Homo sapiens: one gene and its partner. The protein of the gene in region 1 purifies or fractionates together with the protein of each later gene. This does not show direct contact. Each region holds a gene or a part of one and is shown on either strand. Other genes may lie near its edges.

Region 1 (2,943 bases):
ATATAGAAATCGGAAGTATTGGCCAGGCATGGTGGCTCATGCCTGTAATCCCAGCACTTTAAGAGGCCAAGGCGGGCAGATCACCTGAGGTCAGGAGTTCGAGACCAGCCTGGCCAACATGGCAAAACCTCATCTCTACTAAAAATACAAAAATTAGCTGTGGTGGCACATGCCTGTAATCCCAGCTACTTGGGAGTCTGACCCAGGAGGATCACTTGAAGCTGGGAGGTGGAGGTTGCAGTGAGCCAAGATCGCGCCACTGCACTCCACCCTGGGCAACAGAGCAAGACTCTGTCTCAGAAAAAGAAAGAAAGAAAGAAACAGTACTATTTTAAGATTTTTATGCTATATATGTAGATACTATTTGCAACTTGCTTTTTAGTACACATCTTTAAAAGGACTGTACAAAATCTTTCCCCTCACAAAAAGACTTTATTTTTACCTTTAAGCTCTGTTTGTTTGTTTGTTTTAAGTGGTTTCCAGTAAACATTCTTTTTCTTTTTTCTTCTTTTGTTTTGAGACAGGGTCTCACTCTGTCAACCAGGCTGAGTGCAGTGGCACAATCACAGCTCATTGCAACCTTGACCTCCTGGACTCAAGATATCCCCACTTCAGCCTCTCAAGTAGCTGGGACTACAGGTGTACACCACCACACCAGCTAATTTTATTTTTGTAGAGATGAGGTCTCAGTATGTTGCCTAGGCTGGTCTCACTCCTGGTCACGGTGTCGGGATTATGGGCATGAGCCACCCACTCAGCCTCCATTCTTTACGTGTATTTCTACACATGTATTTCTTGAAGGATCACAAGCTATATTCACTTAAAGTCAAGAGATAGTGCCAATTTATATTCATTGAAGTACAGAGAAATAAGGGGGGAAAAAAGGAAGGAAAAAAATCCCAGAGTCAAACCAGAAAGAAAAAAGGGAAAAAATGCCAGAATGTCCTCCAGAGTATTTGTACCATTTACATTCCCAGGGGCAGTACATGAGAGTGCCTGTTATGAACATTTTAAAATGGTTGTCAGTCTAGCGGCTGACAAAAAGCGAACCTCACTGCTTTAACATTTCCCTCATTATGCACAAAGTTTGGAATAATTTCATGTTTACAAGGCCATCTTTCACAGACCGGTTTCCTTCTGTTAGGTCTCTTATTTACAGAAATAAATCTTTATATAACCTATACATCTCGTAATTCTTTCTCTTTATATAAAAGTTGCAAATATTTTTCCCAGTTAACAGACTTATTTTTAAGTTTCTTTATGGTATCTTTTGTCACATACAAGTAGAAATGTTGGGGCAAGTAGATACCATAAAACTCCGTACTTCCCTCAGTAATGTATGTGAGGTACCCTTTTCCTTATATGCCCAATGACAGACAGTATTACCACTTTATAATTTTTGCTACGTGACATCTCATTTCTTATTTTTATAGTTGTAGTATATACGTATATGACCCTAAAACTGCTATCATTTATTTTCTAAAATTATAAAATATCATACTTTGTGTATTCTGTTGCAACTTGTTTTTTCATTCAATTTTTCTAAGATTTATTCATGTTGAAATGATTATTCATTCAGTCATTACAAATAAACATTCCATTCTATAAATACAGTCACAATTTATGTACCTATTCTTTTTTCCCCCCATTTTTATGTTTAGGCTCAATATGTACCTATTCTGTTATCAATGAATCTTGAGGTTGTTTCCTGATTTTTTGCTGCTATGAAAATTCTTATACATACTTCCTCCAAGTTCCTCTCAGTCACACAGACTAAAACAGCTGGGTCACAGAGTATACCCACGTCAACTGTACAAGATAAGGCCTAATTTCCAAAATGGCTGCATCAATTTACACTCCTATAGTAGTATCTATGAATTCCTGACCATTGTTCCAAATCCTTGCCAACTCTTGGTTAGACTTTAAAATTTTTGCCAATTGGGTGGGTATAAAGGGTATCTAAATGTGTAGCATTAATGTGTATTTCTTTGATTACTAATAAGGCTGAGTAGTCTTTTATATGATTATTAACTACTTGTGTGTTTTTTTTTGTTTGTTTTATTTTTGAGACAAGAGTCTTGCTCTGTTGCCCAGGCTGAAGTACAATGGCGTGATCATGGCTCACTGCAACCTCTGCCTCCAGGTTCAAGTGATTCTCCTGCCTCTACCACATCTAGCTAATGTTTTAAATTTTTTTTAGAGATGGGGTCTCCCTATATTGCCCAGGCTGGTCTCAAACTCCTGGGCTCAAGTGATCCTCCTGCCTTGGCCTCCGAAAATGCTGGGATTACACGTGTGAGCCACCACGCCTGGCCTGTATGGTTTTTTCCATTAAAATGTTTCTGTGCATATTTATGGAGCACATGAGAAAATCTGTTACATGTATATAATGTGTAGCGATCAAGTCAGGGGATTCAGGGTGTCCATCACCTGAGTATTAATAGGTTTTTGTTAAGGGTGGTCATCCTACTCTGCTATGAAACACTGAATTTATTCCTTTTATCTTACTGTGTATGGGTTTGTACCCTTTAACTCTCTTCATCCTCCTCCTTGCCCCTCACCGTTCCCAGTCTCTGTTACCTATTTTTCCATTCTCTCTTTTTTCTTGAGATAGGGTCTTGCTCTGTTGCCCAGGCTGAAGTGCAGTGGTGCGATCATGCTGCCTCAACCCCCTGGGCTCAAGCAATCCTCCCACCTCAGCCTCCCGAGTAGCTGGGATTTTAGGCACACGCCACCATGCCTGGCTAATTTTTTATCTTTTGTAGCAATGGGTATGTTGCCCAGGCTTGCATTGAACTCCTAGGCTCAAGTGATCCTCCCGCCTCGGCCTCCCAAAGTGCTGGGATTACAGGCATAAGCCACCACGCCCAGCCCTATTTTTCCACTCTCTACTTCCATGTGTTCAAATATTTTAGCTCCCACATATAAGTGAGAATGTGATAT
Region 2 (3,662 bases), on another chromosome or scaffold:
CTGTTCCCTCTGCTTGGACTGCTCTTCTCTCCTCTCTTGCTTGGCTACCTCTTACTCATCCTTCTGGTCTCAAGTATCACTTTCCCAGAGAGGCCTTCCCTAACCTTCCTGAGCACTGCATAGATTAAATTTCCCTAAGACCCCATGTACCTCTCCTTTAGTGTGGATGTTTATCTGCGAGGTGGGGGGCAAGTGAGAGAGACAGAGAGAATAATTTTTTCCTTCACTCTATTCCCTAAGTTTCTTGGACATTGAGACTATGTTTGTGTTTGCCTAGACCTGTATCTCTAACAAACTATATATAATAAGTATTCAGCAAATATTTGTTGAATAAATCAGTGAATTTCTAAGTGGTGCTATTTATTTGTGGCTAAAAGTAGGATAGGAACAGTTGTTGGAAGAGGAAAGATCAAGAGTCCTTTGAGTTTGAGATGGCTGTGAGCCATTGAAGAGTCAGTGTCAGGTAGACAGTCAAGCTCTTGAGTCAGGAGCTCAGAGACTGTTCTCTGAGTCTGGATTTGGATAATACTTTTGGGAGTCATATTATATTTGTATTATTTAATCCTGGGTGAGATGATTTAGAAGGTGCTAGAGAGTGAAGAGAAGAGGACCAGGAAGAACTCCAACTTTTACAAGTCAGGTAGAAGAGGAGACTCTACCAAAGGTCACCAAAAAGGAACATCCAGTGAACAAAGAGTAAAATTCAGAAAGGCTATTATCCGAAATCCAGAGAGAAGAGTGTTCCAAGAAGGCAGTGAAAACCTAGGTTGAGTGATGCTGAGCGACAGAGCAAGATGTCCATATGAGGTACGAGAAGTATCTATGTAGAGGTGCTGGGAGTCTTTGATGAGCCATTTCAATGGAGTAATAGGATGTAAGTGGAGACTGGAGTGGATTGAAGAGTAAAGGGGAGGTAATGGATATGGGTGAAGAGAGTGGGTAGCTGGCAGGAGACGTTAAGGAAGGTTTTCTAACGATGTGACGTTGCAGAGCACATGTGTATCGGGATGTGAATGTGTGTTAGCGTGTGGCACCTTTGTCCATGTGTGGCTTAGTGTGTGTGTTCTTGTGCATTGGATGTGTGTTCGATTCTCAGGGAATTTCAACCCTTGATCTTTGGCTCAGATCTTCATTTAGCATTAGAAATCAATATTTATATTTTTTAGAATTCATATAGCTTTAGTGGATCATAGATATTAACTCACTAGCTCTCAACTCTTTATAGTTGATGAAATTAATAATAAAGCAATGAACTGGCTTATTCAAGGGATCAGGCAAACTATTGATATAGCCGGGCAGGGAAACATGCCTGGAGAGTGTCGTTGGAATTGGTATAATGACCGGTAATAATCTTTTAAAAATACAAGCTATTTACTTTAGTTTTGCATACATCAGGTAGTTTGGGTTTTTTTAAATGGACAGTCTACATTTTCATTTGTTCTGCTGAGGCCAGTAATGGCTATGCTAAACAGTGAGAAGGTGGACAGGAATTTAAAACTGATCACAAATCCAAACAGAGGACTCATTCCCAAATTGGCAAGCATTTATGATGCTATTTTCCTTGCAGGCAATATATGAGCGCCTTTTTTGTTGGATCGTTACTCGCATCAATGATATTATTGAGGTCAAGAACTATGACACCACAATCCATGGGAAAAACACTGTTATTGGTGTCTTGGATATCTATGGCTTTGAAATCTTTGACAACAACAGGTAAACTGGAAAAGATACTTAAAACCTTGTTGCCTGTTTTCTATTTGTTGAAACTTAATTTATTCCTTTTCTTGTAGTTTTGAACAATTCTGTATCAATTACTGCAATGAGAAACTGCAGCAGCTATTTATTCAGCTGGTTCTGAAGCAAGAACAAGAGGAATACCAGCGGGAAGGGATCCCCTGGAAACATGTGAGTGGACTCTTATGGAAAATGCCTTCATGTGTTTCTCATATTATTGATAATGTCAAATTTTATTTTAGGTATTTCTTGATCTTTTGGGGGTATTTGAAACATCTGAACCTTAGCTTTCCTTTTTGGGATATGTAAATACAATTAATTTCATCATTTTTAGGTGGGATTGCTATAATTTGATAGACTGCCTTGTTGATGCCCAGAACATCCTGAGTTAGAACCAGTAAACCTGTTTTCACTTTATGGCTGCTACCACGTGGACTTACTGGTTTATATCTGTCTGTTAGGTTTAGCATACTTTATTAAGTTATACCTTAAATTGGCTGAACTTTGCTTCAGAATCTAGTTTCTTCTTCCCTTTTTCCTCCTTTTTCTCCTCTTCTACTTTGTAGACTATATGGTATTTTATTGTCTTCAGTTAATGTTGTTTATATTCTCTGAAACCTACACATTAAAATACTTGTTTTACTTTGCATTTTCTTGTGTATTACACTTCAATTATCACCTCTACTCTAATCAATCTTTGGGAACTTTTGTATTTGTCAGAGGCAAACTAATCTGGTAAGATATAGCTGGAAAGTATAATGGGTGCACAGTGCAAACCACAGAGATCAAAGCTAAAAGGCATGACTTGTTTGGTTTTTAAATTTCCTGTGATAAGACCTTCTGTTTATGATAGAAATGAGACATAGTAATTTTTCTTGTAAGTTTGTATTTTTAAGCAATTTTGAGAATAAACTTGAAAAATACAAAAACTTTTAAGTTTCTGTAGTTTGAGTTTATATGATTGTTCATCCTCTTGCCAGAGAATAGAAATGAAGCCAGTATTTGTTTTTTGTTATCCAATATAATAGCAGCAAAAAAATATTTGAAATACTATATTTAAATGACTTTTATCTTCCTTCCTACCTATTTTCTATTTCCTCTCATTCTGAAATAAAGAGACAGTGATATAACAAATAGCTTTCCCGCCTCAAAATTGTATCTGCCTTCCATCATGTGTTAAACGTTAGAATACCATAAAACAGTTGCTCAGGTATATTGGCATAAATTTTACCTATCTGCATATAAACCAAAGGGCTATTTTATATAAGAATTATCTATAGTTTGACTTAAATAATGAACTCTCCTAATACAATTAAAATTTAATTCAGTTCAATTAAGTGTATATGAAGCTTTCTAAGAATGAAACTGTTGTATAATATAATACACGGTATAACTGAAGCTTGGATTTTTAATACCAAATTTAATCATAAAACTTGTTATTCAAATGTGATTCCAAGGTACTAGTCAAAAATATCCTTTCACAATCAGAATATCAAATTTCACAGACATAATTGACAACAGGGTAAGTAATGCAGTGGACTGTTCCAAACATCTCAAAAAGAATTAAGAATCCCAAAATGCAAAAAATTTTCGCTAAATAAACCAAGAACTATTTGTCCTAGAGGGAGCAGAAGGCTAACTCCAAGGTAACAGTTACTTACTACATGGCAGATCCCCCCACAATTAGAATCTCTATTCTGGGTAAAACCCCAAACTTCTAAACATAGTGATTCTTTTTAAAAGATTTTTTATTATGGAAAATTTTAAACACACATTAAGAAGACAGACTATAGTACAGTAAACCCTATATACCCATCACCTGGCTTTAACACGTACCAGTTGATTGCCAGTCTTATGCCATCTGTACTATACCCACCTACTCCCAGATTATTTTGAAGCAAATTTCAGATATCACATTATTTCATCTA

Evidence for each region.
Region 2: the proteins of ATF1 (region 1) and MYO1D purify together in Homo sapiens (co-immunoprecipitation; one large-scale study listed by IntAct). This does not show direct contact.

The regions. Positions count from the first base shown.
Region 1 is NC_000012.12:50,815,983-50,818,925, reverse strand, and holds part of ATF1 (cyclic AMP-dependent transcription factor ATF-1), read right to left. Parts: intron 1-2,943.
Region 2 is NC_000017.11:32,758,533-32,762,194, reverse strand, and holds part of MYO1D (unconventional myosin-Id), read left to right. Parts: intron 1-1,567; coding exon 1,568-1,713; intron 1,714-1,790; coding exon 1,791-1,905; intron 1,906-2,068; coding exon of another isoform or gene 2,069-2,083; exon of another isoform or gene 2,084-2,383; intron 2,384-3,662. UniProt on the Homo sapiens protein: Unconventional myosin that functions as actin-based motor protein with ATPase activity. Plays a role in endosomal protein trafficking, and especially in the transfer of cargo proteins from early to recycling endosomes.